Homo sapiens: one gene and its partners. The protein of the gene in region 1 purifies or fractionates together with the protein of each later gene. This does not show direct contact. Each region holds a gene or a part of one and is shown on either strand. Other genes may lie near its edges.

Region 1 (4,509 bases):
GCTGAAGCAAAATTATGTTTAGCCTAGCAAAGTATAAAATCTACCTCCCTTCAATTGGAGTAATAAGTTCTTTGTATATGGATAGATTTTAAAAATCTAGTTAAATGTATTTTTGATCTATTTATTTACAAAACACAATGATTGGCAAGAATCAAATAGTTCTCAACTCAAGGGCTCGGTAGTGGAAGAAGATGGTGTGATACTACTCAGGGAATTGGCTTGAACCTTTTGATTTTCTTTCAGGTGAGGGAATATGTCCAATTAATTAGTGTGTATGAAAAGAAACTGTTAAACCTAACTGTCCGAATTGACATCATGGAGAAGGATACCATTTCTTACACTGAACTGGACTTCGAGCTGATCAAGGTAGAAGTGAAGGAGATGGAAAAACTGGTCATACAGCTGAAGGAGAGTTTTGGTGGAAGCTCAGAAATTGTTGACCAGCTGGAGGTGGAGGTAAGGAGTGAACTCACTTCTTGGTAAATTAATAATAAACTCCCTTCAGTGACTGTAAGCAAGTACTAGTACCAGGAAGTGAAACTATCTCTTCCAACTTCTAATTCTCTACTGTCTCATGGCCACATGGCATATCACTATGTTCTGTTTTGGATAAGGGCATGTGTTTGAATAGTAAGTTAAGCACATTGGGAATGTGCTGACTTAGGAGCAGATGTTGTCTAATGGTCAGAATCCTGCCCCAGAATAAAATGCCCTTTCAACTTCTCTGAAAAGGAGCTGGCATAAAGTTGAACAACGGTTCATGGCCAAGCTATATGAGGTGTCTTCTCTGCTCTAGATTTATCCTCATGGAACTAGAAATCCACAATATACCTGATTGTGGTAAAATTGCTAGGTTTGTTTCTCCTTTTGAATAACCTGGAATCCTTCTCTGCAAACTGGAAACCCCCTTTAAGAAATTTCTTGTATATTTCTGTAAAGCCTTTTAAGATCTGTGGATAAAGACCATCACATTAACGTTATGGTTGGGTAATTTATATCAACAAAAATTTACTAGCACAGTCATGACATGGGCTATAATTGAGAATTCTAGTTACGTATTTTAGAATTTAAGCTTTCTCTGGCCCTCACCATTCATTAGAATCTTAATTATAATACAACATGAGTAAACACAAGTTTATAGGGGAAGGTTATTAGAAATGAACTTTAATGGACATTTGTGGATGCTGAGGATGAGCTTGGGCTCTATTATTAAAGCTATTAAAATCTTTGCCATTTTCTTCTTGTCACACACATCTGCCTGAGATCTGACAGGCATTCATGCTAAACCATAAAATGTATTCTTCCAAATGAAACCATTCAGAAGAATCTCTGGTGTATTCTCTGGCAATGTTTCACTAAATGACAAATTCAGCCCTGGAATGTTTATGAAAGAAATTGCACCATAATATAAAGTCACTCTGAATTTTTATTTCCTTAGATAAGAAATATGACTCTCTTGGTAGAGAAGCTTGAGACACTAGACAAAAACAATGTCCTTGCCATTCGCCGAGAAATCGTGGCTCTGAAGACCAAGCTGAAAGAGTGTGAGGCCTCTAAAGATCAAAACACCCCTGTCGTCCACCCTCCTCCCACTCCAGGTAAGCATGCCAGTTTTTTTAACCACTTGTGCCAGACCCCATAAGGAGCTGTGAGTGGGGTGGGGAAGGGATTGGGGATTGCAATGGTGAAAGAAGAAGGTGGGTTGTTTTTTTTTTTTTTTTTTCAGTTCTCAGTTTTCTCTTCCATGTTTTAAAATTCCCTTCCTCCCAAGTATTCTACATGCTATCATATTCTGGGTTTCAAAGAGGAAGAGCACAAACAATGAGTTGATTTAAAGCAAAATCCACGAGTTACACGTATTCTCTTTGCATTTTCTAACAGGGAACAAAAATCTCTATGGTGATGGAGGCCCTATCAGGGGCCTCAGGGGAAAGCCTCTGGAATCTGTGTGTGGCATCCACTTTCCTGTGGAGTTAAGGACTGATTGGCTCACTTATCTGATGAGCTGGGTTTATGCCTTTGATGCTGCCATCTTCTCTCTCTCCTTCTGTTTCTCTTTAATTTTTTCTTTTTTCTTCCTATAAATGCATGCTGAGCACCTGCTATATTGTGTGTCCTGAGATTCAGTGAGGATTAAAGGAATGACCCCACATATCATGTGCTTGTGGGTGTGTCTTGCCATTCCTCATGGATTGTGAGTTCTTGGAGTAGGGGTGGCATGTTCGTCTTTAATGAATTCTCATTGGGGTTAAGTACAGCACAGAGGTGGGTGTTCTGCAAATATACCCATGAACAGAGGCAGTGGAGTGTAGGGTACAAGAACATAGCTTTAGAATTCCAAAGACCTGAGCTTCTCAGCTAGGTGGCTGCAGCAAAAAGGATCCTTAATATCCTCATTTGTAAAATGGGAGAATAATAGTGCCTGCCTTGCAGGGTGGCTGTGGGGATTAATGAGTCAGTGCTTGGGAAGCTCGGAACCTTATGATCGGCACTCACACGCTGGCAATGGATATTGTTAATAATGTTGATAATTGAAGCGAAAGCCTTGCAGCAAAACAAAAGCAGTGCCAGATTACTGTGCCCTGCAATGCATTCCTTCAGGTAAACTAAAGCCTCTCAGCCACAGTGTTCAGCCCCATCCTTTAGAGATATCAATGACACAGGGACCTTCTCTCTGCAGGTCCTGAGCATCTTAGCCTGAGTGGGGACTGTATCTTTTCATCAAATCATGCAATCCTTTTATTTTTATGAATTCCAATCCTCACACCTGCTTTCTTTTAGACTGTGTTTCTGGATTATTGTCATTGTAACTGATTTTTTAAGGCTTCAATTATTAAATAGGTATAGCCATAGATATAAGCCTCTTGGTCTTCTTCAGGTGGATTTTTTTCCTCCCTCTGCAAATAGGAGTGTGTCCTACTATGACAGGTGTCATCTAATGGTTAGAATCCTGCCCCAGAATGAAATGGCCTTTCAACTTCTCCAGAAAGGAGGTGACATAAATTTGAACAACTGTTCAAATTTCGCATCCTGCATAGGAGGTTTAGGGCAGACAACATGGTCTGTCCTCTGTAATAAACTAAGGCTAAATTTAGTCTGGGATTAGTGGTGCAAAAATGTAGCAAATGAGAGCTGTTTCTGGTGGACCACAGAGGACTCACTGAGGCAGAGGCTGAAGCAATGACAACTCCTGATAATCCCTGAACGAGCTCCCCAACACCCCTTGCAAATCCTCCTCATGGAATAGATTTTTCTGGCACAATTTTCTATGCATCCCTTAGAATGAGGACATTTTAGATGAAGGAATATTCAGGGCCATCTAACTTAGCCTCGTCTTGTCTCAGAGGAGAAGACGTGGATGGTAAGAACGCTGCTTTTCCTGAGGCCACACAAGTAGTTAATGACAGAGCAGAAGCTGCAAGGCAAGGGTCTTTGCTCCCTGGTCAGTTCAGGACCGAAGGTGTCAGGCAGCAGTAATCCAAGGACAACGGTGGGGAGAAAATGCATTGCTTAGTATCCAGGGAAGAAAACAAGTGAGCCTGTTGGGTTGTTTTTGTTGGATTTTTTTTTTCCCAGAACTTTCCCCTAGGCCCTCACACTTAGACTTCTGTGATCCATCCTAGCCCAGCTGTGTTGTTTAAGCAAATTGGACCCAGATTTTTACTCACTTTCCCACAACCTTGGCTGTACCTGAATCCCTGCCAAGCCACTTGGCTCTCTTCCAGCTTTGTTCATATTATATTTATGATGTTTATATTAAACTGACTTTTGGTCATGTTTTTAAATCAATTTCTTTCACTTGCTCTCTTTCTGTTTGGATTGGTTGATAATGCAGAATTGGAAAATCCCCAAGCACCACAAACTTGTGAGCCTGTGGAGACTTTAATTAAAGTTATTCTCTATTATGGGACTTTAAAATCTGGCCTGTCTGCTTTTTTCACTGCAGAGTTGCACAGAATAAAAAAGACTATATGCAAGTCTCAGCTCTAAAGTAACTCTGCGCTCTCTGGGCCCCCTCCCTTATAGCTACAGTTTGCTGACCCAGTGGTCAGCTTGAACTTAGAACAAGTGAATGTATCCCAGGTTCAATAAAATATGCTTCCTATTTGGTTTTTGCTACAAACAACGTCCTTTTTCTGCCTCATTTCATAGAACTTTCTAATCTAAAATAATTGGCCTTCTACTCATTAACTTTTTTCCCTTAAAACTTCAGTCTGTCTCTGTTTTGCCTGTGAATCTAAATGACTGTATATAGGCCAAATGTGATCGGGTGCTCAGGGGTTGATCTCCAGTTTGCTTGGGGATGCAAGGTTCTGTGCTGGTCCATAGTGATGCTCAGTAAGTAGCTGATGATTAAATGGGGTCTGAAAGAAATGGGGTGACCTGCTAAAATCTCAAGCTTAGGGAAGAGCCACATGTTGAACAGCATATATCCAACACTTCAGAGTCAATTTAGTCTTAATCATTTTATGACTATGATTGTTTTAATTGCCTAATTCTTATAAGTCA
Region 2 (4,509 bases), on another chromosome or scaffold:
CACAGACCCACCACAGGAACCCAGCAGGGCCCCGGCGGGACCCGGCAGGAGACTGACTCAAAATCCATTCAGGTGCTCACCAGATGGCTCTGGAACAAATATAGCAGGAAGAAAACCCCCAAATCCACCCCTACACAGGACATCTTAATTCTGTAAAAATAAACTAGCTTAGAAATGCAAGTAGCAAAACATTCGTATAACACAACACCAAGCATGTAGATATTTAAATAAACAGAACAATGGCGGCACTTGCAGCTACACAGAGATGAAGGAAAGACCCTGAAACGTGGATGGGAAGACCCCTGGGGGGGCTTACCCCATGGAAGGAGGGGGAGGAAGAAATGGGGAGGTAGAAGAGTTTGCTGTATCTTTATTTCATAAATGAAAAATATTTTAAATTCATGGCAAACTTTAATACTTGATAAATATTATATATATATACACACACACACATTTTTTTTTTTTTGAGATGAAGTCTCACTCTGTCACCCAGGCTGCAGTGCAGTGGTGCGATCTCGGCTTACTGCAACTTCTGCCTCTCAGATTCAAGTGATTCTTCAGCCTCAGCCTCCCGAGTAGCTGGGACTACAGGTGTGCACCACTGTGTCCAGCTAATTTTTGTATTTTTAGTAGAGACGGGGTTTCACCATGTCGGTCAGGCCGGTCTCAAACTCCTGACCTCAAGTGATCCACCTGCCTTGGCCTCCCAAAGTGCTGGGATTACAGGCGTGAGCCACTGCACCCGGCCAGGTGGTAGGTGTTTTAAGAATATATGATGTGCGGTACTTTTCAGTTTGTTTGAAATGTTTATTTACGATAGGTTTTAAAAAAATTAAAGATAATATTTTTATTGCAAGCAAATCAAACATTAACAGTAAATATAAGTAAAGTTAACGCATTGTGCGAAGGAGACTTCCAGGAGGTCGTGCTCTGCAGGTCCTCTAAAGCAGACAGCTTTTAGCCCATCATGTTGTGTGGTTCTTGAGGCTCTGAGGTAGATGGCCTCCCACTTCACAGAGGGGAAAACTGAGGCTCAAAGAGGGTAAGTCGTTTGTCTAAGGGCACAGTGTAGGTAACTGGCAGCCCTGGGATTGGGTCCCTGGGGTCTGGGTTGTCCCTTGCCCCAGGCCCTCTTCCCTGTTGGGCATTGCCGGGGCCATCTACCTGGCCTGGATGAGCTTCGGTGTCCCCAGCAATCCCATTGGGTGCTTTCTGACAATTCACCAGGCATTCGTGGAGCCCCCACAGGAGCCTGGCTTTGTCCCGGGCACTGGGGCTGTGGCTGGGGTGCAATCCCTTTCCCCATAGGCTGATTGGGAAACCGACATTGACAGCCTCTGGTGGCCTGGGGGTGCTGGGATCCCCAGAAGGTGCATTCTGGTTTTGAGCTTTGGAGGTGGGCTGGCCTGGAGCAGACCTGCTGGCACTGTGGGCATCTGTGGACAGCCCTCCCACACCCCTTGCCTGGCTCATGCCCCCTGCACATGCAGTGTCAAGTCCGCCAGAAGATGCATCGGGACTCCTCCCAGACTAAAACCAAAGCTTCGAATAATGAACCTCACAACAAACCATTTTCCAGTGGACTGGAGGGGTGACACCTCCCAGATCCAAGGAGCCCAGTTTGCTCCCCATCCCCAATCCCATCCCGCCGGCCAGGGGAGCTGCTGCCCGGGGGTGCCGTTTCTCTGGCTCTTCAGGAAGCCATTTGCAATGAGCAGGGCAATAGCCTCTCCAAGATGCCAGTGTCTTAATCTCTGGAACCCGTGAATGTGTCACCCTCCAGGGCAAAGGGGAGTTACGACTGCCCTTGGAATCACAGGTGCTAATCAGCTGGCCTTCCAATACGCGGGCTCTGTGTAGCAGGGTGGTCCCATCGGTCCTTATAGGAGAGAGCCTTTTTGAGCTGTGGTTGGAGCCATGTAAGCACAGAGCACAGAGGGGTGGAGATGAGTGGGGCCACCAGCCCTGGGATGTGGGTGGCCTGGAGAAGCTGCACAAGGCAAGGAAGGGATCCTCCCCTAGAGCCCCCAGTTGCATTTACCTGCTAAGACTGGTGTTGGACTTCAGAGCCACAGAGCTATAATCCGCTTGTATTGTTTTGATAATTTGCTTGGTTAATTTGTTAAAGCAGCGATAGGAAAGAATACATCTTTGTTGGCAAAGTGATTTTCTTTTTCTTTTTTCTTTTCTTTTTTTTTTTTTTTAGAGACAGGGTCTCACGCCATTGCCCAGGCTGGCGTGCAGTGGTGTGAGCATGGCTTACTGTAGCCTTGACCTCCTGGGCTCAAGCAATCCTCCTGCCTGAGCCTCCCAGGTAGCTGGGACTATAGATGGATGCCACCACACCTGGCTATTTTTTGTAGAGACAGGGCCTCCCTATATTGCCTAGGCTGGTGTCGAGCTCTTGGGCTCAAGCTATCCTTCCACTTTGGCCTCCCAAAGTACTGAGATTACAGGCATGAGCTACTGCCCCCAGCCTCCTCAGAGTGCTTCCCTCATCCTGCTAAGGAGCTGGGACACAACCATCTGGGGGCCGGCTCAGGAGTTGCAGCCTTCTTGGCTCCAGGTTGATCACAAGGCAGAAAAAGGTCTGAGGTGCAAACCTGCCCTGCCACCATGTGGGAAGCTATTAGCTGCTTATCACCTCCGGGGCCTGCGGTTGGTCCCAGGAAGCACCCAAGGGGAGCAAGGGGCTATTGAGAAAGGTCCTGGCGAGGGGATAGCAGCAGCCCCACCCCCAAATTAACCCTCTAGTGCCAATAGCTTCTTCCTCCTTACCTAGCCTAGCTTGAAATTTATGTTCATTTTACTTTTCAAGGGAGAAGGCAGGTCAGTGGGGTTGGTGGCCTTTTTAAGACAAGGCTTCCTGACCCCTGGCGGGTGTCCTGGGGCCCCCGGATGGACCTCAGTGGGTCTGTGTGGCCCAGAGTGTGTAGGGATTCCGTATATTTTCTTTTCTGACAGTGGATCCATTTTTCCAGGTTTCTCAAAGGGGTCTTTGATCTCCCAAGTCAAAAACCAACCAAATTCCTTCATTTGTATTCGAAGCCTCTTTTATGCTGGACTCTTGAAGGCTAGGATTCAATGTCGAACACCCACACAAAGGCTGCCCTTGGGGGTGTTAATTTAGGACAGGAAGGAGGGGGTTGCCATTCACATCCATACATAGTAACAGACCCAGAGTCAGGGTGGTGCCTAGGGAACGCAGCCCATCCCGAGGGCTGCAGACAACATTTCGTGGCGAGCGAGCTGAGAGCTCTGGGTCCAGTGGGTGCCCACGAGGCCAGGCTGGTCCGGAGAGGATGCTCTGGGCTGTGGGACCTGCAGGGGCAGAGGCCTGTGCTGTGGGGTTTCCTGGCGCCTTTGGGGAGTGGGGAGGAGGCTGTGGGGGCTGAAGCAGGGGAGGGGAGTGAGGGTGGGCGGGTCAGGCATTCTCTTGGGAGTCACGTCTTGAGTTTGAACTTCATGCCAAGCATGTTCAGAAGTCTTTGCAGAGATTCAAGCTGTGGTGTGGGGTGCAGGTGATAAGATCATTCTGGCTGCTCTAAGAAAGGTGAGGAACAGGGTGGGTGCCGAGGGGGTGCTCAGAGGCCGGAGACTCCTTAGAGGATGTGGCAGATCATCCAGGCAGGAAGTGTAGGCAAACTGCATCCCGGCAGAGACTTCCGTGTCTTGGAGCTCCATCGGGTGCACCTGGGTAATGAGGGGGAGAGGAACTAGGCATCGCGGGCTTAGAATTCACTCTGATTTTCCCCACCGCCTCCTCATCAAAGCCCCACCAAGTCTCCATTTACACAGCCCCCAGGACGGGGCTCTCACTGTTTCCCGTGGCAGAAATTCATTGCTGGGAACCTGCCTCCTTCCCGCGGATGGCTCGTGGCCCTGTTTGCAGCTCTTCTAAAACCTGCCTGGAAGTTAAGAAAAAAATAAAATAAAAATACCGAGGCCTGGGCCCCACCCTAGGCTTAGGCCAGAGTCCTTGAGTGTGAGTGTGTACGCCTGTGTGCCTGCCCCTTTGAATCGCTCGTCCCCCCGGTTTTGGGCTGGAGCCCTGCCGTGGAGCCACACAAGTTGAATCTCTCGGCAGCCCTGTGTGTGCTGGGGCGGGGGCACATGCTCCGGCACGCTACCCCACGCGGAGCTCGCTTTCCTGCCCGCCAGCCCCCTCCCCCGGGGCTTCACGTGCTCTTCAGATGGTGCGGTTTGGGGTTGAGAAACTGGGTCCCTGCACTTCCTTCTCCCCACCCACGTTTGGACCCAGCTCCCTGGTAAGCAGCCGCCTTTGCCAGATGACCCGTGGAGGCGGGAGCTGAGCCTAAGCACCAGTCCTGACTTGTCTGCGGCCCAAGCAGGGGGTTGAGGAGGTGGATGAATCCCGGTGCTGGCGTCAGGGCTGTCTCCTGCTCACTTTCTGTTGCTTGGGGGCGGGTGGGGCAGGCTTGGACGGACAGGGGAGCTGGGAGTCCCTCCTTCGTTTCCTTTCCTTGTTTTCCTGCTAATAAGTCCTAA
Region 3 (4,509 bases), on another chromosome or scaffold:
TCTTTACATGTATCCTTACGCCAGGACCACACTGTCTTGATTACTCTAGATTTCGAGTTTGAGAAATACAAGTCTGACTTTATTCTTTTCCAAGATTGTTTTGGCTATTCTGTGTTCTTTGAATTTCCATATAAATTCTAGAATCAGCTTGCCAATTTCTTCAAAGAGCCAGCTGAGATTCTGATAGGGATTATGTTGAATTAATAGATCAATTTGGGAAGTATTCACATCTTAACAGTATTAAGTCTTCCAATCCATGAATGTGGAACATCTTCCCATTTAACTGGGTCTTAAATTTTTTTCCAAAAATGTTTTGTGGGATGCAATGTACAAGTACTGCACTTCTTTTTAAAAATTTATCTCTTTTTGAAACAATTTCTTAATCTTTAGTTTGCTCATTGCTACTATAGAGAAATACAATTTGGTGTACTGATCTTGCATATCTTATAACATTGCGAACTTGTTCTTTAGTTCTAATAGTGTTTTAGTGAATTCCTGAGATTTTCTACACAAAATGTCATCTGAGACTAATTTTACTTTGTCCTTTTCCAATTTAGATGGCTTTTATTTTGTGTTCTTGCCTAATCACCCTGGCTAGAAATTCTAGTACTGAATTGAATAAAAGTGGCAACAGCAGACATCCTTGTCTTGTTCCTAAGCTTCAGGGAAAAGCATCCAGTCTTTCACCATTAAGTATAATGTTCTGGGAATCATGGAGGGGGAGGTTATACATCAAGTTCTATGATGTTTGGTTTTTCCAGATACTAGCTCTTTGCTCCACCTTAGTTTTGGATGAAATTCTTCTCATCTGTTTTAGCTAAAATGTCACTTTCTTGGGGACATCTTTTCTGAATCTTCAAACTAGACTCACAGTGCCCTGCTCTCATCACACTTGTAACAAATACTTGTCAGCATCACTCTCCCTCCTAATTCCAGTCTGCCTTGTTCACAGGTATATTCCTGATTGGCACGCACAGTTGGGTATTGCTATAAACCAGCTTCACATACTATGCTCTATTTCCTGACTTTGGCAGGGACACTGTTCCCTGCCCTAAAACTCTTTTCTGCCTCTGTTTCCAACTCAAGGGCAAGGATCTGCTCTATTCATCCTTATACCTAGCACATAACACAGCATGGCACTAGGTAACCCTTAGTAACCTCTGTGAATCATTCTAACTCTACTTAAAAGGATGTCATTTTTACCCAACAACAAAAAAGGAAACCTTACCTTTGACCGGGCCAATTTGATTGGTCACAGCAAATCTAAGCACTCTTTCTTCGTCATTATACAAGGCAAAGACCCGGTCCACGTTCAGCTGCTGGGTGGTGGGGAAGGACGGGTGTCTGGGGGCGTGCCTGCACACCTGGTAAGTGATGTTCTGGTGGATGCGGTAGGACCATGTTTGGTTGATTGCACCAAAAGTCAGAGAGTAGTCTCTGGAACTTGTAGAGGTCACAGCTGCAACAAACACAGTGGTAATTTTTTAAAAATATTAAATACAGAGATTTTCATGTGAGGTGGATTTTTCTGCAGTTTTTTTCATCTAATTCTTGGAGTGTGTTCCCTTGGGAACCTCCTGAGTTTATATGAAAAAATGTGTAAGGAAATCCCAAAAACCTGAGTGGATGCAAAGCCACAGTGCTGAGAGGGAGAAGGCACTACAATTGTCCATGTTATTATACACAAAGAATAAGTGTTACTAAGGGCCAGCCATGCCAACAGTGCTCTCTACATACTGCCTCATTTATTCCTCACAACAGCCTGGTGAGGTGGGCACTAAATCATGTGATCAGAGGCTCACAAAGGTTAAGTAGCCTAAGATGCAATGCTGCCACATGGTAGAGCTGGAACTGAAACTCACATTGGTTTGACTCTACACCCTAAATTTTAAACCAATCCATCTTCTACATTTCACAGAAGTGACGACTTCCAACACCTCGCACTTCAGTAAATCTGAAGGATTCCAGAGAAGGGAAAGGGTTGTCTCTCACCATCTGAGTCTAGGAGTCAAGCTCAGGTCAGTGATCCGGACACTGACCATTTTGTTCACAGCCCAGGTCTCTGCTTCCCCTTGTCTTCCCTACATCTCCTGCCAGGCTGCCAGCTCTCAGCATAGGAGCAGCAGGGGTCAGAGGAAAGGCACAACTCAATCCGGATTGCTGTGCTGCACAACAGCAGCTGTGATGGAGGCAGCATCCTGTGCGCAGGTAGTACTTTCACAGAACACATCACGCTTCGCACACATTGATCACATAATATAGAAAAAGCATTTTTAGTTCCATGTGAAAGATGAGAAAATACATTCTCAGATATTAAGAGGCCTTTCCCTATAGATATTAAATGGCAAGTCCAGGATATAAATTCTTATCTTTTGACTCCAAATCTAGCATTAGTTTTATAATAAATTATAGCATCTCTGTGTTTTTTGGTTTTGTTTTTGAGATGGAGTCTTGCTTTGTCGCCCAGGCTGGAGTACAATGGCACAATCTCGGCTCACTGCAACCTCCACTTCCCAGGTTCAGATGATTCTCCTGCCTCAGCCTCCCAAGTAGCTGGGATCGCAGGAGCGTGCCACCACACCCTGCTAATTTTTGTATTTTTAGTAGAAACAGGTTTTCACCATGTTGGCCAGGCTGGTCTTGAACTCCTGACCTCAGGTGATCCACCCACCTTGGCCTCCCAAAGTGGTGGGATTACAGGCATGAGCCATTGCACCTGGCCTCTTTCTGTGATTTTTTTTTTTTTTAAAGCAGCCTGAACTCATCAGCTGAAACAAGGTTGAGATAAATATAAATTCCAATAATCACTATTTTTCCATGTTGCAGAAAGTAGGATGGTTAAAAACTGTATATAATTATACCATCCCTACCCACCCCATGGACAATGTTGCTATTGATTTTATTATTTGAAAATACTATGTAGGGATATAGATATTCTTATGTATAGCAGCCATTCTGCTCACTTACACGATATATTTCATGGTAACAATAAGAGTAATAACATAATAGAGCTCATTTTATGTTCCATGCACTGTTCTAAGGACATGCCATGTAAGTCATTTAAGCCTTGTATCTATCTTGTGAGATGGGCATAATCCCCATTTTACAGATGTGAAGACTGGTTATACATACTGGAGTCGGAGTAGTGGTACAGCTCCTTGTAGGGAGAGATGTGGGCTGTGAAATTTGCTGAGACGTAAGGCACCTGGCCTTGAATGTTGGTCTTAATGCTCAGGTAGTTCTCTGGGTCAAGTCCCTCAGCAGTTTGAGTGATACGAACCGTCTCCTCTCCCGGGTAGAATGTAACTTCCATGTCATGGGTAAAGGCAGCACCTGGAGATGAAAAACATTCAGCACAGGGATGAAAAGAGGTCTTGCTTAAACAGTTACCAGTATATACTGCCCGCTCCCAATTTCTACTGCTGTTGGAGATCGTGCCTAAGGAGATTATCTGATATCTGAGAGTAAGCACTATCAGCTGTTGATTCCATAAGTTCCCAAACTTTTCCATTGAAGAATATGGTTTCATCCTGCCTTACCTCACCCAGCTTCTCTTTGAACAAGCTTGTATTCTGTGAGAAATACTCTTGGGAACGTCCTTGACTTTTCTCTAAGGTTGCTAGACTTAGCAAAAAACAAACAAACAAATAAACCTAACAACAAAAAAACAAAAACAAATAAACTACCACCTAAGACATTCAGGGTTTTGTTTGAATTTCAGATAAGTATGTCTCATGAAATATGTGGGTAATACTTATACTAGAAAATTGTTTATCTGAAATACAAATTTATCCAGGTGTGCCATTTTTTATCTACTTTTGACCCAAGGGCTTTATTCAAATTTTGATTAAAGCAAGAACCTATTAACAGCTACCGAGCTCTGCAGTTAAAGATGGAGAAAGAACTTCTCACAAAACTATTTTTAATGCAATAAAGATAAAACCTCTAGCAAACAAGTTTTCAGGTTGGAAGGTGAGAATCCAAAAAGTATCTTCTAAATCCTTGTTGTCAACGGGTGGCCTTTCCAGCAACACTGGTACCTCACCTCCTAGCTTGGTAGAAAAGCAAAATCACGGACCCCACCCCAGGCCTGCTGAACCAGAATTTACATTTTGACAAGACCTCCAAGTGATGTGTGTGCAGGTTCAAGTCTGGGGTGCACCGGCCTATACTATTATAGGTTGTGGAGCTGGGAGGAGAAGAGCACCCCTTCCCCATGAAGTAAAATCATCCCCAGGTGCCCCAAGTACCATTTTTGCATTTGACAGATCTGTGCATAATTTAAAAAGCCTGACAAATATGCTGCAACAAATTGGGGTAAGAGGACACAAATGTTCTGAATGGAATCATCCTGTTTCTCAGAACAGCTGGGAGAACATTTAGACGAAATCACTGCCTTTCAAAAATCAGTGATGTGAGGTCAAACCATTCCCAACAACCTGTGGCCAGAAAACTACACACATGTGGCTCTAGTACATTAAACAAGTGATTCCTCTGTCACTGCGTAAA
Region 4 (3,898 bases), 1.7 Mb from region 1:
AAAATATTTACAATTTTTACCCTTGGAGGAAAAAATAAAGCCAATTTCAAGTAGTTTTTAGTTTTCTGGTTTATTCTATAGCAATTTTATTGAAACAAGTAGGTTCTTGATACTTCAATGAAATATCTATGATCAAAATTATCACGGTCATCTATCTCTACCTTAGAGAGCCCTAACTCACACATATGCCTTATACATCTGGTATCATTTAGAGGCAAAAGTAAACACTGGGTAGTTTTTACTTTCCACTTATATTTCTGCCTTTAACTGTTCCAAATTCTGCAGGGAACATACCACCAAACAGGTAATGTTTTACAGTATACCTTCTAACTAGAGAATCTAGTCATCATTTATTTACCAGTGCAGAGCAACCTGGTGCCCACTTCAGCTTATTAGACTACTAAAACTGAAAGCTCGCAAGCCTTCCTCTTAACACCAGATTATTAGACTTGCCCCACAGAAAGCAGCTGAATTTTAAGTTCTCTGATTGCTCACCAACCTCCAGGATCCCAGCTGAATTCATCTCTACTGTCCTCATTTCCTGTCCAAACTATAAACTTAGTTTACCCATATTCCCCTATACACTCATCACAAATCCCCCAAATTCCTGACTCTCTCCTAAATTCGATTCCATGATTTGCAAACTCCTCTTTACTGAATATTCTCTACAACAACTTATGCTTTAACTGAAACCCAGCTCTCCTGTATGGAGACTGCTCTCCTTTCCAGACCAAAAGTAGAAATTGCTTTCTCTTGCACAATCTCCATAGGCATAAAAGGACATGGAGTCACTGATTCCTTCACTTCCTAGTGCTATTGCAAAATTACTCCCTTGCACTCTTGTGAGACTCAACCATGCCATTCACGCTGTCTCTCCTTATCACTATCTTAGGCCAATCTCCAGGGTACAAGCCTGTAAGCCACTGTTGTCTCTGGCACCCAGTTCATAGCCTTCCTTCTGTTGTGCTGAGCCCCTATCAACTCCAGTGGGGATGGCACCAAGTTCAAGAAGCCAAAGAAGAGACCCAGAGCCAGCAAACAAGACAAGGCGTTTTGTTGGGGGCTACATAAAGGGGAGCAAGCCCAGTGGTGGCAAGCTAGGCAGGAGAAGCACCTTACATACAGTCCAATGGTGGTGGGCTGGACAGGATAACTGCACGGCCCAGTGGCAGCAGGCTGGGCAGAAAAATGGCAACTGCTTGCAAAAAGTATACAGTTTATATCGTATTTTCACTTAGCACTCTTCCCCCTAACAACCTCCACCTGGCAACCTTCATTTAACCCAAAACAAAGGGCCTCAATCCCCTGTCTGGCCTGCATTCACTTCACAATGGGTTAGGGGCACAGATGTTCCTTATAGATAGGGAATGGATCTTTGGGTTAGCCACCCTATTCCCTAGCTCAGAACTCCCAACCGCATGCAGGTGTTGTCTGCAAGCAGGGTCATTCTCAAGGTATGCTTCAGTTATTGCTATCAAGCACATCTGCCATGCACATTCCACCCCCAAAGCCCTTCTGACTTCATTCTTGGTTCTTACTACTACTCGAAGTCTGGTGTGTGGACAAGCAGCAGTACCACCAACAGAGAGCTTGCTAGAAATGCTCATCTGCCTCAGACTGAATAAATGAGAATCTGTAGTTTAACTAGACCTCCCAGGTGATTCACATGCATATTCAAGTCTGAGAAGTGCTGTGGTGACTTCAGTGTTTAAGCAGATCACCTGTTAAGAACCTGGCCTCCCCATTCCCCAGCTTCTCTCTAAAGAACTTACACTTACACCTTCGCCTTTCACATCCAGACAAATTCAGAGATGGAGGAGTATCATCTTCACAGTACTCCCGCTACTGCTCCTTAACTCAGCCAGACTTTGACTCTAGCAATTCCTCTACTTTCTTCCTCCTATTAACCATATCCCTTCTAAGTAGCCAATTCTGTATCAGGCTTATATCCCTGTAAGTAAAAGTGATATATCACTTTTACTAATGTCTGAATTTCTCTTATTCTACTGTCTTCCCATAACATCTGCCAAGCAAAATCCCATCTCTTGACTCACTATCTGCTTGCCCCAGACTTGCATTTGGAATCATGAGCGCTGCTGGAGAAATAGGGCCCAGCTCTACAGAGTGGTCACAATCACCATCTCTACTTGGATCCCAGGCACTGTCTAGCAACCTTATCACAATCTTTTCTCTCTCTCTCCCACAGAGATTGTTAAACTCCCTCACTCTCTTCAAACCTCTGACTTTCCCAATATCCCCTTCCGTCTCAGCAGTATACTTCACCTTCTACCTCACAGAGCTCGGAAGAAAAGCAAAGCCATGATTAAGGGACTTCCTTTACCTTCCTCTAACTAAATTGCACACACCCTCGCCCCACTTCCCCCACATTCAGTGTCAATGGAGGGAGCATTCTTTCATCTATGCTCTAGACCATTCCCTCTTGCGTTCTCAGTAATTTTGTGCTGAGTATGCCTTTTCTCATTTTTATTTTCAACCTCTCCCTCTTTACTGGTTCCACCACCAGCACTGAAACATGCTCAAGCATCTCTGATATTAAAAACAAAGAAAAATCACCATTTTCAAAACCCTGTGAACTCTTCCAGATACCATGCTCTTTTCCCATCTTCCTTTTACAACTAAACTTAACTGGTCGTTTATACTCATAGCCATTGTTTCCATTTTCTCACCTCTCACTCCTCCCATAACCCCTTGTTAGGCTCTGCCCCTTTACTCCACAGAAACTGCTCTTGCTAAGATCGCCAAAGACCACAGAATCTTTCCATTTCTCTTGATTGAACAGTTTTTTTTTTTTTTTTAAAGTATTTGGGACAACTACCCACTCAATTATCTTGCCCTTTAGCTTCCATGACATTAAATTCTCCCCTATTTTCTCCTAGCTCTAAAATTCTTCCTTCTCAATCTCCTTTTCTGCTTTCTCCTCTTAACTTTGGCACTTTCAAGGTTCTGTTCTGAGCGTTTTTTCTTCTTTTTGCCTTGGTGAGATTTTATTCAGTGCAATAGGCAGTAACCTGCCTCTCATACTACCCCTCTAGCCCAATCCTCTTCTCCTGAGCCCAAACTCAATATTCATCTTCTAACTTAGGATCTCCACTTGATGACCTAATATGCACTTCTAAACTAAACTCATTTATCATTTCTTCTTCCACCCACCCAGTGTCTCTCAAGACATACGTCTGACTCCTCCCCTGCTCTGGTCCCAACATCTGACCAGTAACCAAGTCCTTCAGTGGTATGTCCAGGTATTTCTCAAATACATATTCTTCTTGAAACCCCACTGTCAGGTCAGCAGCATCTGTTCCCCGGGTTTCCCAACTGATTCCTGTGCATGCACAATTATTTAATAACATCAAATATACAGTCAGTGTCCATACTCTCCAACATGTTTTCTGTTTGTGGAAAAGTTTGATTTTGTTTGATTCTGAGTACAGTTAAGGCCTATACATTGCAACTGGCTTATATATCTCTTAAACTACATTTGAATCTGTAAAATCCTTCCGTACCCCTTTTATTTTTCTGGAAAAAATATTTTTTTTCCAGGAAAAAAACCCAACAGATTCTTTGTCCTGTAGAGTTTTCTACAATCTGGATTTTACTAACGGTATCCCACATGTTTCTCTGTCCCCTGTATTTCCTATAAATTGGTTTGATTACATTGATGTTCAATTTTGGTGTTTGGTTTTTTTTTTTTTGGGTAAGACAACTTCAAAGGCAGTATTGGATACTTCCATCAGGAGTCATATAATATTTTGTTTCCCTTCAGTTAACATGCTGTAAGTATGACCACTATATATAATTGATAAGTCCATTAATTCATTAGGGTTTCCCTACATTCATTCTTGCTCCTCTCTGATAATAGTCCACACACATTACAGTCAAC
Region 5 (4,509 bases), on another chromosome or scaffold:
ACACGCCCTCCGCACCTCCATCTAAGCCTTGGGACTCCTTCCTGCCGGAGCCCCGAGGCCAAAAACGGGAGGTTACCGGTGGGAGCCCCGGCACCGCAGGCGTGGTTTCATTCCCAAACCTGCCACCTCACTCATACAAGCAACCAAAGGACACACAGATGGAGACTGCAGCCTCAGTTTCCTCAGCTGTAAAATGCGCTGAACCACAGGGCCTTCCTCCCTGTACCACTCAGCTCGGGTTCCGTAACAAAGTGCCACAGACAGGTGGTTTAAAACCTCACAGACCTGGCCGGGCACAGTGGCTCACGCCTGTAATCCCAGCACTTTGGGAGGCCGAGGTGGGCAGATCACCTGAGGTCAGGAGTTTGAGACCAGCCTGGCCAACATGGAGAAACCGCGTCTTTACTAAAAATACAAAATTAGCCAGGCGTGGTGGCATGCACCTGTAATCCCAGCTACTCAGGAGGCTGAGGCGGGAAAATCGCTTGAAACCAGGAGGCAGAGGGTGCAGTGAGCCGAGATCGCATCATTACACTCCATCCTGGGCAATAAAAGCAAAACTCCATCTCAAAAAAAAAAAAAAAAATCACAGTCCCAGAGGCTGGAAGTCCCAGATCAAGGTGTGGGCAGGGCTGGTTCCCTCTCAGGGCCCTCAGGGAGGATCCGCTCTGGTCTCTCTCCTTGGCTCACAGGTGACCATCTCCTCTCTCCCTCTTCCCTTCCTCTTCCCTTTGGAGCTGTCTCTTTTTTTTTTTTCATTTTTCCTTTTTTAATTTTAGATTTTTCAGACATGGTCTCACTATGTTGCCCAGGCTGGTCTCAAACTCTTGAACTCAAGCAATCCTCCTGCTTTGGCCTCCCAGAGTGCTGCAATTTCACTGCCCCCAGCCTATTTTTTTTTTTTTGGGGGGGGGAGATGGAGTTTCACTCTTGTCACCCAGGCTGGAGTGCAATGGTGCGATCTTGGCTCACTGCAACCTCTGCCTCCCAGGTTCAAACAATTCTCCTGCCTCAGCCTCCCAAGTAGCTGGACTACAGGCATCCACCACCACACCGGGTTAATTTTTTGTATCTTTAGTAGAGACGGGGCTTCACCATGTTGGCCAGGCTAGTCTCACACTCCTGACCTCGTGATCCACCTACCTCAGCCTCCCAAAGTGCTGGGACTGCAGGCGTGAGCCACCACACTCAGTCTACTTGGCCTATTTTTTATATTTCTTTGAGACAGGGTCTCCCTCTGACACCTGGGCTGGAGTACAGTGGCGCAATCACTGCTCACTGCAGCCTCAACCTCCCAGGCTCAAGCAGTCTTCTTGCTCAGCCTCCCAAGTAGCTGGGGCCACAGGCATGCGCCACCATGCCCAGCTAGCACGTCTGTTTCTGTGCGCAAATCTCCCCTTTTCATAAGGACACCAGTCACTGGATTAGGGCCCACCCTAATGACCTCATTTTCACTTCAGGACCTCTGTAAACACCCACCTCTAAATGAAGTCACATGCTGAGGGATGGGGGTTCAGGATCCCAACCTATCCTTGGGGGTGGAGGACACAATGGAATTCATAATGCTCCCGAAGTGGTTTTCGGCGGGGATCGTGAATTAGGTGTCCAGCGCGTAACACACAGACACCATCTGGTTCTCTGTGTGAGAAGGAGGGGGTTGCAGCACACCCGTCATGAATACCAGCTCTGGAGCAGGACAGACAGGTTCAAAGCCTGGCTCCACCCCGACCAGCTGCATGATCCTGGCCAAGTCACATCACTTCTCTGTGACTCAGTTTACTCCTTGTAAAAAAAAAAAAAAAAAAAGGATAATAACATCACCTGCCTGGTACAACTGTATACTTACTCATTCAGTAAGTATTTTCTAAGCACCTATTACTGGGCACTGGAAATACAGGGTGGACAGCACAGCCGAGGCCCCGTCCGTGTGGACCGGACATTCCAGTGCAGCTGAGAGCCACTTCCACTCGTGAGAGAATCTACCCGTGACAGAGCTGCGTGGAAGCTGACAGGAGGCCCCTCTCAGGAGGTGACGCAGAAACTGGGACCGGGAAAATGAGGCAGGGCCCACGTGCGGAGACCCAGGGAAGGGGGATGCAGGCAGCAGGCGCAGCACGGGTAAGGCCCAAAGGCGGGACAGGGAGACTCCACTCACAGCTGGGCGCCCAGGAGTGCCGCCAGCTTCTGGTGTTTTGTTTTGGTTTTTTTTCTTTTTTTTTTTGAGATGAAGTCTCACTCTGCCACCCAGGCTGGAGTGCAGTGGTGTGATCTTGGCCCATGGCCCACTGCAACCTCTACCGCCTGGGTTCAGGCGATTCTGCTGCCTCAGCCTCCCGAGTACTGGGATTACAGGTGCCCGCCACCGCACCCTGCTAATTTTTGCATTTTTAGTAGAGACGGGGTTTCACCATCTTGGTCAGGCTGGTCTTGAATTCTTCACCTCGTGATCCACCCGCCTCTGCCTCCCAAAGTGCAGGGATTACAGGTGTGAGCCACCGCGCCCAGCCTGTTTTTTTTTTTTTCTTTTTATGAGAGGGAAGCTCACTCAGTGGCCCAGGCTGGAGTGCAGTGGCGCGATCTCAGCTCACAGCAACCTCCGCCGCCAGGGCTCAAACGATCCTCCCACCTCAGCCTTCCACATAGCTGAACCACAGGCGCCCGACACCACAAGCAGCTACTTTTAAAATTTTTTGTAGAAATGGGGTTTGGCTATGTTGCTTAGGCTGGTCTCGAATTTCTGAGCTTAGGCAATTCGCCCACCTCGGCCTCCCAAAGTGCTGGGATTGCAGGCGTGGGCCACAGTGCCTGGCCTGTTGTTTTGTTTATCTGGGAACTGCCTCAACTTTTTTTTTTTTTTTTTTTTTTTGGACACAGGGTCTCACCCCGAGTGCAGTGGTACAATCAAAGCTCACTGCAGGCCGGGCGTGGTGGCTCACATCTGTAATCCCAGCACTTTGGGAGGCCGAGGCGGGCAGATCACCTGAGGTCAACCAGCCTGACCAACATGGTGAAACCCTGTCTCTACCTAAAACAAAAAAGTAGCCGGGCATGGTGGCAGGTGCCTGTAATCCCAGCTACTCAGGAGGCTGAGGCAGGAGAATTATTTGAAACCAGGAGATGGAGGTTGCAGCCTGACCAACAGGAAGAAACCCCGTCTCTACTAAAAATACAAAATTAGCCGGGCGTGGTGGCGCATGCCTGTAATCCCAGCTACTCGGGAGGCTGAGGCAGGAGAATCACTTGAACCCAGGAGGTGGAGGATGCCGTGAGCCAAGATCCCGTCATTGCACCAGCCTGGGCAACAAGAGCAAAACTCCGTCTTAAAAAAAAAAAAAAAAAATCCCTCACTGCAGCCTCAACCTCCCAGGCTCAAGCAATCCTCCCACCTCCACCTCCCAAGTAGTTGGGACTACAAGTGCACACCATCACGCCTGCCTCATTGTTTTTTATTTTTTTTTTGAGATGGAGTCTCACTCTGTCACCCAGGCTGGAGTGCAGTGGCGCCATCTCGGCTCACTGCAAGCTCCACCTCCCGGGTTCACGCCATTCTCCTGCCTCAGCCTCCCAAGTAGCTGGGTTACAGGTGCCCGCCACCACGCCCGGCTAATTTTTTTGTGTTTCTTAGTAGACACGGGGTTTCACCGTGTTGGCCAGGATGGTCTCGATCTCCTGACCTTGTGATCCGCCCGCCTCAGCCTCCCAAAGTGCTGGGATTACAGGCGTGAGCCTGCACGCCTGCCTGATTGTTTTGTATTTTTTGTAGAGATGAGGTCTTGCTATGTTGCCCAGGCTGATCTCAAACTCCCTGATAAACAAGGCTGTGGGTACCTGCTTCCTGGGGCTCTTTGCTTTGTGTTCTTTCTAGTCGGGAGCTGGGAAGAGCCACAGCTTCCAGCTTTGTCAGAGTGTCATCTCACAAACTGATCTTCCCAAAACTTCTGTCTCCCAAAGTGCCGGGATGACAGGCGTGAACCGCTGCACCTGGCCTGCCCCAGTGTGGTAGAATACACACCACATAAAATGGACGATCTTCACTATTTTTAAATCCACTGCTGTCTTTATTCCTGGCTGTTGATCTTAGGAAAACACCAAGAAGCTGGTACTTGATTTGCTAAAAAAGTCACAGACACAGCTTTACTTAATCCTCTAGAGAGGCTGGGCGTGGTGGCTCATGCCTGTAATCCCAGCACTTTGGGAGGCCGAGGTGGCTGGATCATGAGGTCAGGAGATCGAGACCATCCTGGCTAACACGGTGAAACCCCGTCTCTAGTAAAAAATATAAAAAATTAGCCGGGCGTGGTGGCAGGCGCCTGTAGTCCCCCGCCACTCGGGAGGCTGAGGCAGGAGAATGGCATGAACCCGGGAGGCGGAGCTTGGAGTGAGCCGAGATGTGCCACTGTCCTCCAGCCTGGGCGACAAAGCAAGATACCGTCTCAGAAAAAAAAAAAAACCCCTCTAGAGAATCCCAGAAAATAGAAGGAATTATTCCATTTCCCGGAAGAGGAACGT
Region 6 (4,509 bases), on another chromosome or scaffold:
GGCAACATAGTGAGACCTTGTCTATATAAAAAAAAAAGTTTAATTAACCAGGTGTGGCGGCATGCACCTGTAGTCCTAGCTCTCAGGAAGCTGAGGCGGGAGGACTGGTTGATCCCAGGAATTCAAAGTTATAATGAGCTATGATGGCACCATTGCACTCCAGCCTGGACAACAGAGACCCTGTCTCAAAAAAAAAAAAAAAAAAGATTAACAACCAAAAAGACATACCCTGGACATATCCTGATGAAATTTCTGAACTCTAAAGATAAAGAGATAAAATTCTAACCAACAGATCACTCTTACTTTGTGAAAGTAAGAAAAAGACATTTTCAGGTGAGCAAAGATTACCACTTGCCTTTCTTTCTTTCCTTTCTTTCCTTTCCTTCCTTCCTTTCTTTCGTCTCTCCCTCCCTCCCTCCCTCTCTCTCTCTGTTTTTTTTTTTTTTTGAGACAAAGTCTCGCTCTGTTGCCCAGGCTGGAGTGCAGTGGTGCCACCTGAGCTCACTACAACCTCCACCTCCCAGGTTCAAGGAAATCTCCTGCCTCAGCCTCTGGAGTAGCTGGGATTACAGGCGTGCACCACTGTGCCTGGCTAATTTTTTTATTTTTAGTAGAGACGGGGTTTCGCCATGTTGGCCAGGCTGGTCTCAAACTCCTGGCCTCAAGTCATTGGCTCGCCTTGGCCTCCCAAAGTGCTGGGATTACAGGCATGAGCCACCACGCCTGGCCCTGTGTTTCCTTTTGGATAAAACTACTGGCAAAATAAAAATTAAATCAGAATAAAGATCCCAAGCTAAAGGAAACAAACAGTGGTGGGCAGGAAATCTACGGAAATCTACTAAAACTTATCACTGAGGCCAGGAGCGATGGCTCACAGCTATAATCCCTGCACTTTGGGAGGCCAAGGCGGGTGGATCACTTGAGGTCAGAAGTTCAAGACCAGCCTGGCCAACATGGTGAAACCCCATCTCTACTAAAAATACAAAAATTAGGAGTTTGAGACCAGCCTGCCCAACATGGTGAAACCCCGTCTCTACTAAAAATACAAAAATTAGCCGGATGCCTGACTTGAGGTCAGGAGTTTGAGACCAGCCTGCCCAACATGGTGAAACCCCGTCTCTACTAAAAATACAAAAATTAGCCGGGCGTGTTGGCACGCACCTGTAATCCCAGCTACTCGAGAGGCTGAGGCAGGAAAATTGCTTGAACCCAGGAGGTGGAGGTTGCAGTGAGCCAAGATCGCACCACTGCACTCCAGCCTGGGCAACACAGCAAGACTCTTGTCTCAAAAAAAAAAAAAAATTAGCCAGGTGTGATGGCACATGTTTGTTGTCCCAGCTACTCAGGAGGCTGAGGCAGGAAGATCACTTGAGCCCAGGAGGCGGAGGTTGTGGTGAGCCATGATCACACCTGCACTCTAGCCTGGCCGACAGAGTGAGACCCTGTCTCAAAAAAACAACAAAAAAAGGATTCTTAAAATCGAAGAAGCATATCATAAGGAAATAGCTCAGAACTGAAATACCAAATTATTTCAATAAAATCCAGGAATCAAGTAATGGGGGTTGGAAAAGCAAAAGCATGAAAGCATGCTAAAGGTTTCATTTTGAAAGGGTAGGTTACAAAATAGTCATTATTTAACTTTGGTAAAGTGATAAATACAGAATTAATTATGTTTGATATAAATATGAATACAATTACCAACATAACTTAATTACCGATGGAGGATTGTTTAAAAACTTCATCAAGTTAGCAAAACATAAATAAGGGAATAAGAGGAAACAAAATAAATAATAAATATAAAATAAGATGGTAGAGAGCCGTGCACGGTGGCTCACACCTGTAATCCCAGCACTTTGGGAGGCTGAGGTGGGCGGATCACTAGGTCAGGAGTTCGAGACCAGCCTGGCCAACATGGTGAAACCCTGTCTCCACTAAAAATACAAAAATTAGCTGGGCATGGTGGCAGGCACCTGTAATCCCAACTACTCGGGAGGCTGAGGCAAGAGAATCGCTTGAACCCAGGAGGCGGAGGTTGCAGTGAGCTGAGATCGCGCCATTGCACTCCAGCCCGGGTGACAGGGCGAGACTGCATCTCAAAAAATAAATAAATAAAAAATAAGACGGTAGAAATCTGACCAGACATAAACGTCTCATAACAAATGTGAATGGGTCGAATTTAAATAAACACAGTTTAAATAAACACGAAACAGACCACCAGTCTCCTTTCTTCTAAAGTACTCATGTTGCAACAACAACAACAAAAAAAATGTGAGGTTTGGAATGAACCAGGTCTGGACATTTCACTCAACAATTTCCATCTGCCTAACTTCCCTGGAAACTGAGTGCCTGCAATGGATACAAGCACACAGTGAAAGAAAACACATCACTTGGAGAGAAAAAGAATGTGCTTCAGAGGGGAGAAGAGAAGGGGGGAGGGAAAAAGGAGAAGGGGGTGCAGTCAGTCATCCCTCCCAGCACTCAGGAGCCTCTGCTCATAGGTTTTTCAACAACTCCAGAGAGAAAACAGCTACCATTTTATAACCAGCAGACATTCTTACTCTGGCTCAACAACTACCTAGCTATATGACCTTGAAGAATTTTTTAAAACCTCTCTGAGCCTCAATGCATCCACCAATATCATCTAGGCCTAAAATCACCAATTCATCAGTACTCAAAAGCAGATCTCTGTATTCGCTAATCCCTCATCTCCCATACTGTCACCCACAGATGTCCCTGTACACCCACTGACTTCATTCCCCTCATCCTTCCTCTGCCGTAGCATCAAATTTCCCACAACATTCTCTGAAACTCCCACCTGGGTGATCAGCACTCCCCTAACAACCTCTCCCTGGGATCAATTGTCCAAGCTCCTGCCTTGATACTTGGCTCTCCCAAGGACAATGCTTCACTTGCAGGCCTCTCAAAAGGTGGTTGTTGTTTTCACTGCCACACGTTTATCCGGGGGTCAGTAGGTAGAGAACGTAGCCCTCCAGACTCACCAGTGCCAAGCTGAGACTATTTTTCCCTCTTGTTAAAAAGAAAAAAAAAAAAAACCAGGTGTGGTAGCTCACGCCTGTAATCCCAGCACTTTGGGAAGCCAAGATGGGAGGATTGTTTGAGCTCAGCAGTTCAAGCCCAGCCTGGACAACATAGAAAGACCCTCATCTCTATTGAAAAAAAAAATTAGTGGGGCATAGTGGCAAATGCCTGCTTTCAGTTAGCAAATCTGAAGATCTTTCCATCTAATAGTCTTTCCACACAATACAGTTTTTCCATATAATCTTTCTATATGATACTACTTTATCTTTTAAACAGCCAGAATTCTTAAGTATGCATATATCCTACTTTATTTAACGAGGTAATTTTTGTCTTTTCCATCACTATCAATATTTCTATCATCTAGTATTAGATGTTCCTAAATAAAGTATAATTACCACCTTTCTTGTGTTACTTATAAATATGATTATTTGGTCGGGCATGGTGGTTCACGCCTGCAATTCCAGCACTTTGGGAGGCCAAGGCAGGCGGATCACTTGAGGTCAGGAGTTCAAGACCAGACTGGCCAACATGGCAAAACCCCGTCTCTACTGGTAACAAAGCAAGAGTCCATCTCAAAAAAACATAAAAAATAAAATAAAAGTATGATTATTTGCTTTTGGTATTAACAGTATGATTCTTGATGACATTTTTATGATTATATAAAAAATGTATTTTTTTCCCACCAAGCTGTCCACTGGCAGGGCCAGCATTCACACAGAAAACAGAGCACAATCCTCATCCAGCCTGCCCAGTGCCAGTGTGCTATCCAAATGTTATCATTTTCTTTTCTTTTTTTGTTTTGTTTTATTCCTTTTTTTTTTTTTTGAGACAGCGTCTCACTCTGTCGCCCAGACTGGAGTGCAGTGGCATGATCTTGGCTCACCACAACCTCTGCTTCCCAGGCTCAAGCGATTCTCCTGCCTCAGCCTCCCAAGCAGCTGGCATTACAGGCACGCTCTTAATCACTAGTACAACTTATGGTACCAACTGATAGAGAAAAATGTTAGGACATGTCGGGGTTACAGGCAGTGTGATATGTTTTTATCGCAATTCACCTCAGATCAAGTCACTTAACCTTGCTAAGCTTCAGTTTCCTCATCTGTAAATTGAGAATGGGGCATAATGGAAACATTCTCTTACAAGGAAGTCAGGAGGACAGCAATGATACCATATGAAAAAGATCCAGACTGAGTGATGTGAAACATATTCAACAGTTTTTAAAAGTTGCTGTGAAGGCTGGGCGCAGTGGCTCATGCCTGTAATCCCAGCACTTTGGGAGGCCGACGTAGGCAGATGACTTGCGGTCAGGAGTTCGAGACCAGCCTGGCCAACATGGTGAAACTCCGTCTCTACTAAAAATACAAAAAGTAGCCTGGCATGGTGGCACACACCTATAATCCCAGCTACTCGGTAGGCTGAGGCAGGAAATGCTTGAAACCGGGAGGCGGAGGTTGCAGTGAACTGAGATTG
Region 7 (4,509 bases), on another chromosome or scaffold:
TGCTGCCTGCCACCTCTTCTGGGAAGTTCTCCATTCCTTAGCAGACCAGCTACTGCCTCAACTACCTGACCCGGGCATATGTCTCCTCTTCATCCGCAGCAATCCAGGCGATGTCAGCCAGGGTAGGGACTGGGGGCACATCTCTCAAACACAGGTCAGAGATGTTGGGCAGGGTCTATGGAGAAGCAAAAGTCATCAACATTTACAGATGCCATGATGAGCCAATCAGAAACTGCAGAATACACAGGAGGGGTACCTAATCCGGCACTGGGTGTCAGGAAGGCTTCCTAGAGGGGGCAGAAGAAGGTTCCTGGTCGAAAACATTGAACAGAGGCCAGATGACAGTCAGGCATGGTGGCTCACACCTGTAATCCCAGCATTTGGGAGGCCGAGGCAGGCAGAATGCTTGAGACCAAGAGTTTGAGATCAGCCTGGGCAACATGGCAAAACCCTGCCTCTACCAAAAAATACAAAAATTATCTGGGTATGGTGGTATACGCCTGTAGTCCCAGCTATTCAGGAGACTGAGGTGGGAAGATGGCTTGAACCTGGGAGGCAGAGGTTGCAGTGAGCTGAGATTGCACCACTGTACTCTAGCGTGGACAACAGAGCCACATTCAAAAACAAAAACAGGCAAGACACATGAGAGTCTATGGGATTACAAACAGTTCTGTGTCTTCAGTGGAAAAGGCCTGAGTCACCTTTTAGTAGAGATGGCAACTGTCTAAAACCACTGTGCCCTCTGGTGAAAATACAAGTACAAGGTCATCCACAACCTGTTACAGCAATAGGAAATTTTTCCTGACTAGCTTTTTATAATCCTGTATAGCTAATTGAGATCTACATTGTTACAGCAATGCTGTTTTAAACAAACCTGAAAATTTGAATATATTTAGATTTAAATAAAAATAAATGATTATACAAAAGGAACCATAATAGGATTTCTTAAAATAGCTCCTCAACCTAGAGATGTTGAGTAAAGTGAAAAATTAGGATTCAGTCATGTTGACTGTGATTACAACAAAGTAAAAAACATCCATCTAGAAAAAGAGGACTACACTAAGACATTAATAGTTATTGTATTATTACTATGTAATTATAGGTAATTTATTTTCCTTTTACTTTTCATAATTTTAATATTTTCATATGCTTAAATTTTCAAAATAAATTGGTAAGAGTCCCTTAAATAATATTTAAGGTAATTTAATAATAATAATAAATGCATATTTACACACAAGTAAGATTCAACTGTTTCTGCTACAAATTATTTGGTATGGTAGATGGATCCAGGATTGATCGCTCCTGCATTTAGATAGGAAACCTGGGACTCACAGGAGTTAAGTGATACTCCAAGGTCACACAGAGAAGAACTTCCAGTGACCCAGGAACTAGTGCTAAAATAGGGCATTTGGGGGAAGCCTCCATTTGTTTTCCTGATTAGCCCTGAATGCTCCTTTGCTCTTGGCAATTAAATGAGTAAACAAATATAAAGTACAGCACAGTGCCTGACACATAGTATGTGCTCAGTAAATGTTATCTAGTATTACCAATACTGCTCACATACATTCCTGCTCTGTGAGAGCCTGTGCCCTTGATTGTCTCTGCCCAGCATCTGGCCAAAGAACTGAAGAGGGTATAGCCAAGTGTGGGGACGGCCTCTATGCAGTGAGCCACACTCCCTAGCTGTCTCCCTTTTTTTTTTCTGATGCTTCTGAGGCAAGTTAGGACCAGTTCCTGCCCAGGATCTTTAGACAATTCTGGATAGCTGGCAATCTGAATACTGGGACAGCTTTTCCTGCCCCCTACCCCTGCGACACTTCCAACTCCATTCCTGACCCTAATACCAACCCTGACACCTCTTCTAATTCCAGATCCAGTTCCTACAGACTCTGCTTCTTAGCATCTTTTATACAGATTTGGCTCCTTCATTTCTGTTTCTACCTGGGCCCACATCCTTTCATGCACATATTTCTATCTCCTCTGTGTGGGTAGAAAGCACAAGTATTTCTTTTGTATCCCAGCTCTCCAAATGCACACATCTGAACCATATAGTTTGGGGCTGGTGCTTAACCATTTAGTTCCTAGAGGGAGGCAGCTGGGACTAATAAATGCTACTTAGCTTTCTACCACAGAAGGGGTCTCAAGAGACCTGGGCCAGGTAGGAATCTCTGCTGCTGAGTGGGTGCTAAAGGATCCCTAGACACAGAGGTAAGACCAAAGCACCCCAGTAAAGGATGCCCAGATTGGCCAAAAAGAGAAGGCTGAGGAATTATGGCCTCAGAGAAACACTAAAAATAGTGGAGCTGGGCATGGTGGCTTGTGCCTGTAATCCCAGCTACATAGGAGGCTGAGGCAGGAGGACTGCTTGAGCCCAGGAGTTTAAGACCTAGCCTGGGCAACATAGGGAGACCTCATCTCAAAAAATAATAAAATAAAAATACTGGCTACATGGTCAATTCTTAGGGCTGGTGAAGAAAAGCAGAGTTCAACTCAAAAATCACAATAGTCAGTGTCCCATGTGGGGGACCTGTCAGGTTCCTTGTGGTCACAGGTTTGTATGCACTCAGGAGGACACAGTGACCAGGATATCTTATAAGCATTTAACAAATATTTCATAACAGAATGAAAAGTGACCAGGAAACAACCTACTTGGGCAGTACCAAGGGGTTTGGGGCACAGAAGCAGCACTGTCTGAGCCTCTACTCTCCTGCCCTTCCAACATACTCACCTCAAAGGACGCCCGGGCACACGGCTTCAAGGGTAGGTTGGTCCCAATTCTTCTTACTACACTTCGAGCAGCCCCATGTGGCTTGTTTTGCCAGATTGGGATGGTCTGGAGCAAAGAGACGGAGACAGCTACAACCCCAGAGAATGAATCCAACTACTGTCCTTGTCCTCTCCTCTCTAGGTTTGTGGAGACTGAATTCCACAAACCTAGGGACAGGGCACTCTCTAGGGGCAAGTCAACTCTCAATTATAGTGAGGGCAGGTTCCCCAGTTGCCAGCCTACACCCTGGCCAGCCACCCAAGGGAATACCTGCTGCTGCTAAGGCAGTCAATGTTGGGAGGGTCAGGGAAGGGGAGAGGAAGTAGCTGAGTGTAGAGATTATCCAGGCTTTCCTTCCCGTCCTCTGTACAGAAAGGCAGACATACACTGACTCCTGAAGTGCCCCAGGATCATAGTTGGTTCTTCTTAGGGGGAGGGAGTGAAACGGTGGCCTTGCTCCAATTCCAGGCCTCTGGAGAAAGGAGTGCTCAACTGGAGAGTCTCAGAACCTTTTACAGTACTTCAGCAGGCCCAGCACCCAACCTTCCCCACCATACCCCTGCCCTGGGAATGCCCCTTACCACAGTGGCTTCCATTCCTGACATTTGAACCAGCTCCTGCACTTGAAGGACAAGGCAGCCACTGGGCAGCTCCGGGAGGCGGGAGGCGTGACTCCTTCATATCAGGCCATCTGGAGGAGCACCAGATTTCCCTCTTGTGAAACAACCCCCCACAGTGGGGATTTAATGGTCACCACACAAGCCCCAAAAAACCAGGCCCTGCAGAGCCATGACTTCACAGGGGAGAAAACCAGCCCAAGAGGCTGCCCTCACCCAACACTTAGCTCTAAGTCCAGACTCTTAAAGGTTCTGTTAAAGATCTGCGGCCAGGCGCAGTGGCTCACATCTGTAATCCCAGCACTTTGGGAGGCCGAGGTGGGCGGATCACGAGGTCAGGAGAGCGAGACCATCCTGGCTAACACAGTGAAGCCCTGTCTCTACTAAAAATACAAAAAATTAGCCAGGTGTGGTGGCGGGCACCTGTAGTACCAGCTACTTGGGAGGCTGAGGCAGGAGAATGGCGTGAACCCAGGAGGCAGAGCTTGCAGTGAGCCGAGATCACGCCACTGCACTCCAACCTGGGTGACAGAGCGAGACTCCGTCTCAAAAAAAAAAAAAAAAAAAAAAGATTTGCCTAGTGAGCTTGGCCAACCCAAGAGCCTTCCTGGGCTCTCAGGTTTCTTGAGGCAAAACTTCTAAAGATGCAAATAGAATCCTTGGTAGCTACAAAGCTCATCTAGCCAAATTATAAGTACTATCCAAGCCCAGGATTCATTCTTGAAGATGAGATGTAAAAGCACTGCTGGGCCCTTGCAAAGGGAGAGATCAGAGAAAATAGGAGAACGAACACCAGCTCATGCCAATCTCAGTCTCATGAGCTACAGAGAAAAAGAGCCAAAAAAGTTTATCCTGGCTCAGCCACCTTCTGGCTTTGTAGCTACAGGCAAGTTATTTAACTTTTCTGAATGTTGGTTTTTCCATCTGGAAAAAGGAGACAGGAAAAGCTGCCACTGGAGGCTACCTTAAGGGTCAATGAGTGAAATGGGGTTGAGTGCTTAATGAACTGTTAAAACATGACACAGATGGGTGAGGTGACATCTGACTGCTCTTCACAGCAGTCCTTGCATGGTGAGCAGATGCAATCAGTGTGCTCGTTCATTCACTTGTTCATCAAACACCAAC

What was found.
Region 2: the proteins of OLFM4 (region 1) and BMP7 purify together in Homo sapiens (affinity purification with mass spectrometry; 3 studies listed by BioGRID and IntAct, with this or other methods). This does not show direct contact.
Region 3: the proteins of OLFM4 (region 1) and NID2 purify together in Homo sapiens (affinity purification with mass spectrometry; 3 studies listed by BioGRID and IntAct, with this or other methods). This does not show direct contact.
Region 4: the proteins of OLFM4 (region 1) and INTS6 purify together in Homo sapiens (affinity purification with mass spectrometry; 3 studies listed by BioGRID and IntAct, with this or other methods). This does not show direct contact.
Region 5: the proteins of OLFM4 (region 1) and RDH13 purify together in Homo sapiens (affinity purification with mass spectrometry; 2 studies listed by BioGRID and IntAct, with this or other methods). This does not show direct contact.
Region 6: the proteins of OLFM4 (region 1) and GNL3L purify together in Homo sapiens (affinity purification with mass spectrometry; 3 studies listed by BioGRID and IntAct, with this or other methods). This does not show direct contact.
Region 7: the proteins of OLFM4 (region 1) and MTFR1L purify together in Homo sapiens (affinity purification with mass spectrometry; 3 studies listed by BioGRID and IntAct, with this or other methods). This does not show direct contact.

What each region holds. Positions count from the first base shown.
Region 1 is NC_000013.11:53,041,667-53,046,175, forward strand, and holds part of OLFM4 (olfactomedin-4 precursor), read left to right. Parts: intron 1-243; coding exon 244-456; intron 457-1,438; coding exon 1,439-1,598; intron 1,599-4,509. UniProt on the Homo sapiens protein: May promote proliferation of pancreatic cancer cells by favoring the transition from the S to G2/M phase. In myeloid leukemic cell lines, inhibits cell growth and induces cell differentiation and apoptosis.
Region 2 is NC_000020.11:57,179,192-57,183,700, reverse strand, and holds part of BMP7 (bone morphogenetic protein 7 preproprotein), read left to right. Parts: intron 1-4,509. UniProt on the Homo sapiens protein: Growth factor of the TGF-beta superfamily that plays important role in various biological processes, including embryogenesis, hematopoiesis, neurogenesis and skeletal morphogenesis.
Region 3 is NC_000014.9:52,037,519-52,042,027, forward strand, and holds part of NID2 (nidogen-2 precursor), read right to left. Parts: intron 3,334-4,509; coding exon 3,133-3,333; intron 1,460-3,132; coding exon 1,229-1,459; intron 1-1,228.
Region 4 is NC_000013.11:51,369,506-51,373,403, forward strand, and holds part of INTS6 (integrator complex subunit 6), read right to left. Parts: intron 1-3,898. UniProt on the Homo sapiens protein: Component of the integrator complex, a multiprotein complex that terminates RNA polymerase II (Pol II) transcription in the promoter-proximal region of genes.
Region 5 is NC_000019.10:55,049,221-55,053,729, forward strand, and holds part of RDH13 (retinol dehydrogenase 13 isoform 1 precursor), read right to left. Parts: intron 1-4,509. UniProt on the Homo sapiens protein: Retinol dehydrogenase with a clear preference for NADP. Oxidizes all-trans-retinol, but seems to reduce all-trans-retinal with much higher efficiency. Has no activity toward steroids.
Region 6 is NC_000023.11:54,532,723-54,537,231, reverse strand, and holds part of GNL3L (guanine nucleotide-binding protein-like 3-like protein), read right to left. Parts: intron 1-4,509.
Region 7 is NC_000001.11:25,821,968-25,826,476, reverse strand, and holds part of MTFR1L (mitochondrial fission regulator 1-like), read right to left. Parts: exon of another isoform or gene 3,459-4,509; 5' UTR 3,373-3,458; coding exon 3,349-3,372; exon of another isoform or gene 2,871-3,348; intron 2,834-2,870; coding exon 2,729-2,833; intron 176-2,728; coding exon 66-175; intron 1-65. UniProt on the Homo sapiens protein: Mitochondrial protein required for adaptation of miochondrial dynamics to metabolic changes. Regulates mitochondrial morphology at steady state and mediates AMPK-dependent stress-induced mitochondrial fragmentation via the control of OPA1 levels.